Homo sapiens: one gene and its partners. The protein of the gene in region 1 purifies or fractionates together with the protein of each later gene. This does not show direct contact. Each region holds a gene or a part of one and is shown on either strand. Other genes may lie near its edges. The genes, in order: CEACAM6, USP29 and ITGA2.

Evidence for each region.
Region 2: the proteins of CEACAM6 (region 1) and USP29 purify together in Homo sapiens (affinity purification with western blotting, with the first as the bait; one study listed by BioGRID). This does not show direct contact.
Region 3: the proteins of CEACAM6 (region 1) and ITGA2 purify together in Homo sapiens (affinity purification with western blotting, with the first as the bait; one study listed by BioGRID). This does not show direct contact.

The regions. Positions count from the first base shown.
Region 1 is NC_000019.10:41,765,380-41,769,032, forward strand, and holds part of CEACAM6 (cell adhesion molecule CEACAM6 preproprotein), read left to right. Parts: intron 1-803; coding exon 804-880; 3' UTR 881-920; intron 921-3,653. UniProt on the Homo sapiens protein: Cell surface glycoprotein that plays a role in cell adhesion and tumor progression. Intercellular adhesion occurs in a calcium- and fibronectin-independent manner.
Region 2 is NC_000019.10:57,126,354-57,130,006, reverse strand, and holds part of USP29 (ubiquitin carboxyl-terminal hydrolase 29), read right to left. Parts: intron 1,348-3,653; 5' UTR 1,332-1,347; coding exon 1-1,331.
Region 3 is NC_000005.10:53,072,834-53,076,486, forward strand, and holds part of ITGA2 (integrin alpha-2 precursor), read left to right. Parts: intron 1-284; coding exon 285-426; intron 427-1,551; coding exon 1,552-1,644; intron 1,645-2,227; coding exon 2,228-2,304; intron 2,305-2,387; coding exon 2,388-2,471; intron 2,472-3,653. UniProt on the Homo sapiens protein: Integrin alpha-2/beta-1 is a receptor for laminin, collagen, collagen C-propeptides, fibronectin and E-cadherin. It recognizes the proline-hydroxylated sequence G-F-P-G-E-R in collagen.

The DNA of each region.
Region 1 (3,653 bases):
AACTCACTAGGACATGGTTACTGGCTAAACATGGGAGAGAGGAAAAACAGTGCAAAGAATCAAGCCTGGTATGTTAGCTTTCATCCACTGAGATGCAGCCAAGATGGGATTAGAGGTACAAGATAATTCACTGGGTAAAACAGCCATGAGGGAAGGTGGAGCAGCAGTGACAGGAGAGCCTAAGAGAGCCCTCAGACCACGATGCAGATCTCATTCCTGAGAAGGAGAAAGAGAAGGAGGGAAGTTTTACATAGCAGTGCAGTTCTGAGTTTCCCCAAGACCGATGGGGAGTCCTTGAACCCCTCACCCATGAGAGTGAAGCAGGGTCTCACAGACCTGGGCTTGCTTTCTTTCCCCTGGTGGGAGCCCATGGGAAGTGAGTTCTCTGTGCAAAGAACATAGTAAATTCAGAATGCACTAGCCTGGGCCTTCTGTCCATCAAGTCCCTGCCATAGAGCTCCAACAGGCTCTTATTCATGGCTGCCACAATTGAGACACTGAGAAAAAGATGCAAACATAAAAATATAGAAAGTTCTAATGACATGCAAAAATAGCAATCAGACTTTCTCAAATTTTCAAAGCCTTCAAAAATGTCTGAGTGCAGAAAGAACAGGATGAAATTGACAGAAGACTGATCACCAACCTAGAAACGTGGTAAGAGAGAAAAAAAATTGCAACTTTCCCACAAAACTAGTGTATTCCTTGAAGGAACAAGTCAAGCCTACTTCATGTTGACAGCTAGTTCTTGGGGACCCCACTGTAGAATAACATCACCTTCATTCCTTCTCTCTTCTTCCCACAAGGAAGTGCTCCTGTCCTCTCAGCTGTGGCCACCGTCGGCATCACGATTGGAGTGCTGGCCAGGGTGGCTCTGATATAGCAGCCCTGGTGTATTTTCGATATTTCAGGAAGACTGGCAGGTATGATCGCCTTTCCTCTTGCCATGTTTCCTGCAGGGCTGACCACCATGCTTGGGAAAGGAAAAAAACTTCTTCACCTGTATCTGGGACTGGATCTCCTTCTACCGCTAAACTCCTGCTTCTCAGCACTAATTCCTGCAGGTCTCTTCTTCCCTGGTCTTCATGCTCCCTGTACCCCACTGTCTCCTAGATATAATTATCCCCAGCCTCTGCTCATTTGTTTCCTAGAGTCAATACATTGTCAAAGCCTCTTCGTCCTTTTTCAACATCTCTCACTTTTGTCAGTCTCTCCATTCCCATCAACCTCAATAATTGTTCAACATCCTGCTTGACCCCTTGTTGTAAGGTTGGAATCCTTCTTGCATATGACTGCCTCATTACCTTCCTAAAATCTAGTTCACTCACCTACTTAAGGAGCCAAAGGGGGCCAGGCACAGTGGCTTATGCCTGTAATCCCAGCCCCTTGGGAGGCCGAGGTGGGCGGATCATGAGGTCAGGAGATACAGACCATCCTGGATAACACAGTGAAACCCCGTCTCTAGTAAAAATACAAAAAATTATTCAGGCATGGTGGCGAGCACCTGTAGTCCCAGCTACTCGGGAGGCTGAGGCAGGAGAATGGCGTGAACCTGGGAGGTGGAGCTTGCAGTGAGCCGAGATCGTGCCACTGCACTCCAGCCTGGGCGACAGTGCAAGACTCCGTCTCAAAAAAAAAAAAAAAAAAAAGAAGCCAAAGGAACCTGCTCTGGCCTACTAGTTAAGTTCAAATTTCTTCTCTTTACTAATTCTTCTTACTTTCTTTCCCTCTACTTCCCAGTATAATTCCTCCATCTTAATTAGAATCTGACTCTCTACACATCCCTGCCCCTTTACCCCGGATGCACATAGAATTCTTAGTTTCAATGTTACACCTAAAAACAGGGTGATCTCCCCTCCACTACCTGCCCTGTGGACTTACTCACACCCTTCATCACAAGCAACCTCTTATTTCATGGAGAACACAGACTGTGTAGTATTAATATGTGAACTTTGGACACATCCTGCATGTGGCTGAGAACCTTTTCCTGACAATCAATTCATGTGTTCATAACAGATACAGAAATGAAGAAGGCAAGGTCCCTACCCCCAGGGAACATAAAGCCCAAGACAGGAGATAAGACCTGAAAAATAATCATGATACCAAAGTAGAAAGGAGCGAATGCCACAAAAATTCAGATAAATCTGATGGGAAATATAGCTACACATTGGAATCACTCCGAAACATTTTTAAAAACGGATGCTCAAGCCCCAACCATAAATTCTGATCTACTGATCTGGAGTGGGACCCAGGCATTGGTAATTTTTAAGCCTCTCCAGACGCTACTAATGTGTAGCCACGATGGAGGATCCCTGTTCTAATAGGTAGGACTTGGGGCTAAACCCATGGTTTTTAGCTAGGAGGATTAGAATTACCTCTGGAGCTTTTTCAACATACATGGGCCTATACTTTGTTGGCCTAATTCATTAATGGGCTCCACCAAGAACTCAGTAATCTAACTGAGAAACAGAAACTAAAAGGAAAAGCCGCCTTATTTGATATGTTACATTATATGGGAAGCACTGTCAAATGATAAGTGATGCTAAACCTTCTCTAAGTTATATTTATGGTTATGTTATTGATGTGAGTGTTCCAAAAATTATAAGAGATTCCCAGAAATCTAACAGATTATAAGCCATAATGTCATATGCCACAGAAGTAACTAAATGTCTATGGGAGATGCATTCTTTTTTTATTTTTATTTTTATTTATTTTTATTTTTTTTTATTGATCATTCTTGGGTGTTTCTCGCAGAGGGGGATTTGGCAGGGTCATAGGACAATAGTGGAGGGAAGGTCAGCAGATAAACAAGTGAACAAAGAAACAAGTGAACAAAGGTCTCTGGTTTTCCTAGGCAGAGGACCCTGCGGCCTTCCGCAGTGTTTGTGTCCCTGGGTACTTGAGATTAGGGAGTGGTGATGACTCTTAACGAGCATGCTGCCTTCAAGGATCTGTTTAACAAAGCACATCTTGTACCGCCCTTAATCCATTTAACCCTGAGTGGACACAGCACATGTTTCAGAGAGCACAAGTTTGGGGGTAAGGTCACAGTTCAACAGGATCCCAAGGCAGAAGAATTTTTCTTAGTACAGAACAAAATGAAAAGTCTCCCATGTCTACTTCTTTCTACACAGACACGGCAACCATCCGATTTCTCAATCTTTTCCCCACCTTTCCCCCTTTTCTATTCCACAAAACTGCCATTGTCATCATGGCCCGTTCTCAATGAGCTGTTGGGTACACCTCCCAGACGGGGTGGTGGCCAGGCAGAGGGGCTCCTCACTTCCCAGTAGGGGCGGCCGGGCAGAGGCGCCCCTCACCTCCCAGACGGGGCGGCTGGCCGGGCGGGGGGCTGACCCCCCCACCTCCCTCCCGGACGGGGCGGCTGGCCGGGCAGAGGGGCTCCTCACTTCCCAGTAGGGGCGGCCGGGCAGAGGCGCCCCTCACCTGGGAGATGCATTCTTATCATAATGAACTCTCATCAGATGTTTAACCATACTCATTTTCAATCTTTGTCATTCACTGACAATTGTTTTTTGTTTTGTTTTGTTTGGTGGGGGGGTTGTTTTTTGTTTTTGTTTTTGTTTTGAGATGGAGTTTCACTAGTTGCCCAGGCTGAAGTGCAATGGCGTGATTTCGGCTCACCGCAACCTCTG
Region 2 (3,653 bases), about 15 Mb from region 1:
GCATGACCACAAGCTTTACAAATAAGGGAGAGCTGCAATTCAAACTCAAAATTAGCAACAACAGGGCAAACAAACACTTTGGTGGCAGCACTACCAACATGCATTTGTGGAGATGAATTTTCATCCCCACATTCTTTCCCAGTATTCAAAGTGGCATTTAATTTTTCCATGTCTTCTTTCAGCTGGTCTAAACACTGACCTAAAAACTCATGAGCATCATTCTGCATGTTGCCAGAAAATATTTCTGCAACTGCTGAAATGACTTTTTTAACATTCCCAAGTAATTCTCTCTTGATCTTTGTACTACAGAAATCTTTCAAAGCAAGCAGCTGGGTCAAGGTCATAATAAGAGCCTCAAAGGGAATATATTCCCATGGGACACCTTGAGTGAGTAAGTCATCAGCAAAAGATGGAATTGCAAATAGCGATTGTAAAACTGCATTCATGTAACAGGTGTTTCCCAAATTGGGGAACCCCTGCTGCAGTTGCTGTGAATGAGAGTCAAGAGGCACCTGGGCTTTGTTGCATCTTGGGTCACCCTGGCTGTGCTCTGGTTCCAATGGAGATGTCAAACCATTTTTGGCATTGAGAGTCTGGGTTGCAAGAACAGTCTCATCTAGGTTAGGATTTCCATTACAGTTGGTATTGAATGAAGGCCCGAGTTTCAAATCTCTATCTTTTTCTAAATCCTCTAAACTTGATGGGTTCTTCCTATTGCTTTGTATATATTTCAAGGAATCTGTCTTATATTTCTTGTTTGGTACAGGGTTATCTTCCTTCAGAATGTCCTCATTTGTCTGTACATCAGATGATAGTGTGTTTTGCCCCTTCCCACCTTGATTTTCTAATATCCCCTTTTTCACATGTGTTGGTGATTTTGACATAAACAAAGGCATCTTCTGATAACTTGGCTTGTTACAAATGCTGTAAAATGAAGTTTTGTCAATTTCCTTCAGCATATTCCTGCTTTCAAACACACTCCAATCATCATCAGATTTCATGGGTTGCTGAGATTTGTTTTGGTGGATTATGTCCAGGAACATATTCAACTGTTTAGCATCTCTGTAGGATAATTTGTCAATAAACAAGAACACGTTGTTTTTCAAAGTTAAACGCAGGTGACTTTGTCTTTTTTTACAATGTCTAAGGACCACACTTCTAATGTTGTTGCTCAGCTGAAAAATTCTTATAAATTTTCCAGATTTGAAAGTGACCACCAGTTTAATTTCCTTTTGTCTTTGCACTGTTTCAATGAGAGCTTCTTTCAGCTTAGTCATCCCAGTCTTCTGGCTCCAAATTTGGATGAATCCACATACCTTTAGAGATATCATCCTTTCTTTATGTAACCTAAAGAAGAAAAGCACACATGCATTTTAACCAAGAATATATTAACAGTTATATTTTATGAAAAACCTCATCCACATATAATAATGATTTATTTTTAGTCTTCTTATGCTCTAAGTAAAATACTCTTTTGGGGTGCTAATATTCTGAAGCTGTGCCAGTTCTCCAGAAGACATAGACTGAGGCACACGCATTTTCAAGGGAGCTGTTAGGCGAGAAAGAATATACAAATGGCCAACAGAGATATGAACAGGTGCTCAGCATCACTGCTCATCGAGAAAATACAAATTTGGTTGGGCATGGTGGCTCACGCCTGTAATCTTAGCACTCTGGGAGGCCAAGTGGAAGGATCACTTGAGCCCAGGAGTTCAAAACCAGCATGGCAAAATAGGGAGACCTCATCGCTACATAAAATTTTTTAAAATTAAAAAAGGGGCGGGGCCAAGATGGCCAAATAGGAACAGCTCCGCTCTGCAGCTCCCAGCGAGACCAATGCAGAAGGTGGGCGATTTCTGCATTTCCAACTGAGGTACCCAGTTCATCACATCGGGACTAGTTAGGCAGTGGGTGCAACCCATGGAGGGCGAGCAGAAGCAGGGTGGGGCATTGCCTCACCTGGGAAATGCAAGGAGCCAGGGACCTCCCTCCCCCAGCCAAGGGAAGCCGTGAAGAACTATGCTACTCGCCCGGTTACTACGCTTTTCCCACAGTTTTTGCAATCTGCAGATCAGGAGATTCCCTTGTGTGCCTACACCACCAGGGCCCTGGGTTTCAAGCACAAAACTAGCCAGCTGTTCGGGGAGACACCGAGCTAGTTGCAAGAGTTGATTTTTTTTTGTACACCAGTGGTGCCTGAAACCCCAGTGAGACAGAACCATTCACTCCCCTGGAAAGGGGGCTGAAGCCAGGGGGCCAAGTGATCTCACTCAGCAGGTCCCACTCCCATGGAGCCCAGCAAGCTAAGAACCACTGGCTTGAAATTCTCACTGCCAGTGCAGCAGTCTGAAGTTGACCTGGAATGATGGAACTTGGTTGGGGGAGGCGCATCCGTGATTAATGAGGCGTTAGTAGAGTTTTCCCTGGACAGTGCTAAGGAGGGTGGGAGGTTTGGACTGGGCAAAGTTCACCACAGCATGGCAAAGCAGCTGTGGCCAGACTGCTTCTCTAGATTCCTCCTCACTGGTCAGGGCATCTCTGAAGAAAGGGTAACAGTCCCAGTCAGGGGCTTACAGATAAAATTCCCATCTCCCTGGGACAGAGCACCTGGGGGAAGGGGTGGCTGTGGGCACACAGCTTCAGCAGATTTAATCTTTTCTGCCTGCTGGCTCTGAAGAGAGCAGCTGATCCTGATAAGAGGGATTTTCCCAGCACAGCACAACAGCTCTGCTAAGGGACAGGCTGCCTCCTCAAGTGGGTCCCTGACCCCCGTGCCTTCTAACTGGGAAAGAACTCCCAACAGGGGTTGAGAGACACCTCATGCAGGAGAGCTCTGGCTGGCATCAGGCTGGTGCCCCTCTGGGACAAATCTTCCAGAGGAAGGAACAGGCAGCACTCTTTGCTGTTCTGCAGCTCTGCAGCCTCCGCTGGGGATACCCAGGTGAAAAGGGTCTGGAGTGGACCTCCAGCAAACTGCAGCAGACCTGCAGAAGAGGGGCCTGACTGCTAGAAGAAAAACTAACAGAAAGCAACAACATCAACATCAACAAAAAAGACCCCCACACAATAACCCCATCCAAAGATCAACAGCCTCAAAGATCAAAGGTAGATAAATCCACAAAGATGAGGAAAAACCAGCACAACAACGCTGAAAAATCCAAAAAACAGAATGTCTCTTCTCCAAATGATCGCAACTCCTGTTCAGCAAGGACACAAAACTGGACAGAGAATGAGATTGATGAATTGATAGAACTAGGCTTCAGAAGGTGGGTAATAACAAACTCCTCTGAGCTAAAGGAGCATGTTCTAACCCAATGCAAGGAAGCTAAGAACCTTGATAAAAGGCTACAGGAATTGCTAACTAGAATAACCAGTTTAGAGAGGAACATAAATGACCTGATGGAGCTGAAAAACACAGCATGAGAACTTCGTGAAGCATACACAAGTATCAATAGCCAAATCAATCAAGCAGAATAAAGGACATCAGAGATTGAAGATCAACTTACTGAAATAAGGCGTGAAGACAAGATTAGAGAAAAAAGAATGAAAAGGAATGAACAAAGGCTCCAAGAAACATGGGACTATGTGAAAAGACCAAACCTACGATTGATTGGTATACCTGAAAGTGACGGGGAGAATGGAATCAAGTTGGA
Region 3 (3,653 bases), on another chromosome or scaffold:
AATGTCTACCATCCACATAGGAGTAAAACAATAAGAAATATAAAATTATCTGTATTTAAATGGTTCCATTCCCTCTAATACAATAGCAACAAAGAACAATCCAATTGCATTTACTTATTTGTTGTCAGTATCATTTTGATGCAAAGATAGTTTATTACACAGCAATTTTCTCAGTATTCTAAGTAAGTCTAAAGAGTTTAGTTTTTTAATGAGTGAAATTTTAAAATACTGGCCTTTTTATTTAACAGTAATGGCTTTTCCCCCCTCCTTTTTACTTTTAACAGAGAACAACCCTTTATTGTCAGCAACCAAAACAAAAGGTTAACATTTTCAGTAACGCTGAAAAATAAAAGGGAAAGTGCATACAACACTGGAATTGTTGTTGATTTTTCAGAAAACTTGTTTTTTGCATCATTCTCCCTGCCGGTATGTGATGAGACCCTGTACTTACTTCCACCATGCTTCCTACTTATAGATCACTGTCTTCTCTATGTCCTCTGAGTTGTTTAAAGAAGCACCTTAACCCTCAACATGATCAATCTGAACTTTGTGGCTTCCGACTAGTTAAACTGCATGAGAACATAGTCTGGCTCTATATCTAGATTCTGCTTGACAGCTTGGGTCAGTTTTTCCCTTATCCTGAGACTTGGCAGCAGTAGCCAGACACTCCCATAACTCTTCTTGAGCTATCAGTGTGATGAGGCTGCTGCATTCTGCACAGATGTGGTGCACTTGCTCTGAGACATTTGAGTCCCAAAGCTTAGCCTGAGCTTTGCAACTATGGTTGTTGCTGCTGCCAAGATGATGCACGCCAGCAAAGCCAACTAATCACATTGACTTGATCATTATACCAGGAGCACACTTGACTGTGAGTGCTCCCTGGTCCCTCCTCTACCACCAAATTATGAAGAAAAAAGGGAGAGAAGGAAAAGCTGAGATTTTCCAAATGAGCTATCTGATTAAAGGATTAAACAATGATTTCATTTAATTTAGAGTTAATGTGATCTTAATAGGCTTAGAGTTCTAAACCTAACCTGACCTTGGTGTTTAAACACCCTGTGCCAAGTGGCAACTACTTCCTTTAAAGGGAAAAAAAAACCTGAAGAAAACTAAAAAAAAAAAAAAAAAAAAAACCCTCAAATTACTTAAAATACAGACAAACACCAACATATGATTTTACTTTCTTCTCTTGAAAATGCTTCAAATAAATTGAGAAGAACATATTCCTAAAGCCAGCATTTCAAAATATTGAATTAAAGCTATTCGTGCATCTGAAAATAAAAACTATCATTTTTTTCTGGGGAAAAAATACAGTATTTAATCTTTTCTTTGTTTTGTTGGATGTTCTAGGTATCTTTAGGGTTAGCAATAAAAGTAGTATATTAGCCACCTGGGCAGTATAAAATTTCAAGTCTTGAGGTATAATAAATTATTTCAGTATGAACCAACCTTACTGCTAAAATGCCACTGTACCTCTTTTACCAGGTGCGTGCATACACACACAAATGTTGTATGCCAATTGATCATTGTTGTTTCCTTGGTCTTGTTCAGGTTGATGGGACAGAAGTAACATGCCAGGTGGCTGCATCTCAGAAGTCTGTTGCCTGCGATGTAGGCTACCCTGCTTTAAAGAGAGAACAACAGGTACAACTTGCATTTCATCCTCCAATCCATACAAGCCCTCCTTAGCACATATGCTAATTTACCAACATAACATCTTGCTATCATGATTTGATAGGCATCACAAAATAACTAGCTGCATACTTAGGGGAAGTTTTCAATATCTAAATGTTTTCTTTAAATTATTAATAAAAATGGGATTTTCTCCATGCAATTCATTCCAAAAGGTACACATACTATGGAAAGTTCTTTTTGTCTAAATATGTTGAGCAACATTGGTCAAAGCACTATACACAGAGTCACAGAGATCATTTATTAACCCCTAGTAACAAGTTTCACATCAGCTCAAAGCTTCCAAATTCAGACAGGTATATACGCCTGGATAACTTACATGTGTCACTTGGAAGTCAAGCTTCTCTAATTCTAATGTGAGGCATAGTAAAACAAGGTGGACAAATAAAGATATTCCACAAATTTGAAAGCTTAAGGTATATAAAATTCAGAATCAAATTTGAGTGAGTTTACTTTTATGAGAAACATTTTTTTTTTCACGTTGGCCTCTGAGTATGAAGCATCATAGACTGAGAAATTTTAATTTTGTCTTTAGGTGACTTTTACTATTAACTTTGACTTCAATCTTCAAAACCTTCAGAATCAGGCGTCTCTCAGTTTCCAAGCCTTAAGGTAAAACATAATGAAGTCATGAATGGAATGATGGATAGCTTTGTATTTCTCTTTAAGTAATTTCCTAATGTTTCTTTCTATAGTGAAAGCCAAGAAGAAAACAAGGCTGATAATTTGGTCAACCTCAAAATTCCTCTCCTGTATGATGCTGAAATTCACTTAACAAGGTAGGTGAAGCAGTGGGTAACCTGCTATCACTGACACCAACTCTAGATCAGAAGATTTTTGGCTCATGGCTAAAGAAGTCCTCTGTATGCTCATTCTTAACTGAAGAATTTGAATTAAAATTCTTGTCAACTAAAACAGGAGTCCACAGACATATTGGTCCCTAGGAAAACCTTGAGTGACTCGTTAGGCTTATTAAACCAATGAGAGTAGCCCAGAAAGGCAGAGAAAGATCCCCGTAGCCACACATCACAGGCACACTCCACATTGCAGGCCCTCTGAGTAGCTGCAAACATTCTCAAAATGTTGAAACAGAACTCTCAAAGGTCCTGAGAGTTGTCTTCACTTTCTTCTCACTGCCTACTTCCCATTGTATGTGAGATCTCAAGCAGTATCCCCATTCCTGGACATTGAAGCCCCAAGCACAATGTTTTGCACAGAGTAGGTCCACAATAAATATTGAATCTAGTCACTGTTTGAATATTCAAATATTGGAACTAGATCAAGTCTAGTTTCTGAGGGAAAAATTCCTCACATATCAGATTAGGGTTTTCTTCCAGCCAGGTGGAAATGAGGTTTTTTCCAAAGGATGTTATCCATAAAGAAATGCTTTGTTCCCTGTTTTTACCTGCCCAAAGCAAGCAAACCTGAGAGCAGTGGTGTAAATGTCACTGGTTGATACAGGCTGTCTTTAATTGTTCAGAGGGACAGGTGTCTTGGTAAGTGGGTAACACACAAATTCCACAGGTTCTAATAGGTCGATATCACTTTAACTCACACTTAGAAGTAAGGTGAGTTCATGGCACAGACAAACTGGAACACAGTTGTGCAGATGCACTGGGCACAGGTGATGCCCTCCTACAGGCCTGGGAACCAGAGTTCTCTACCTGGTGAAGCAATAGGACAGCTTCCCAGCACAGATCAATGACCCCTGAATAGCACACTGCAGCACTTTCCCAAGAAATCCAGTGACAGCAGGTTTGTCTAACTTCTACCACATCACTCCAGCCCCTAAGAGCATGGAATCTGTAGATCATCCAATAGCTCTCTGAGCAAAAACAAAAAGGAAAATATGTCATCATGTCTAGAGCTTGAGCCAAACAGCAAAGATGAAAAGAATGCTTCTGTATCAAGTGAGTTGCAAATAGCACAAGCAGAAACAAAATTCCGTCCAAATAATACAT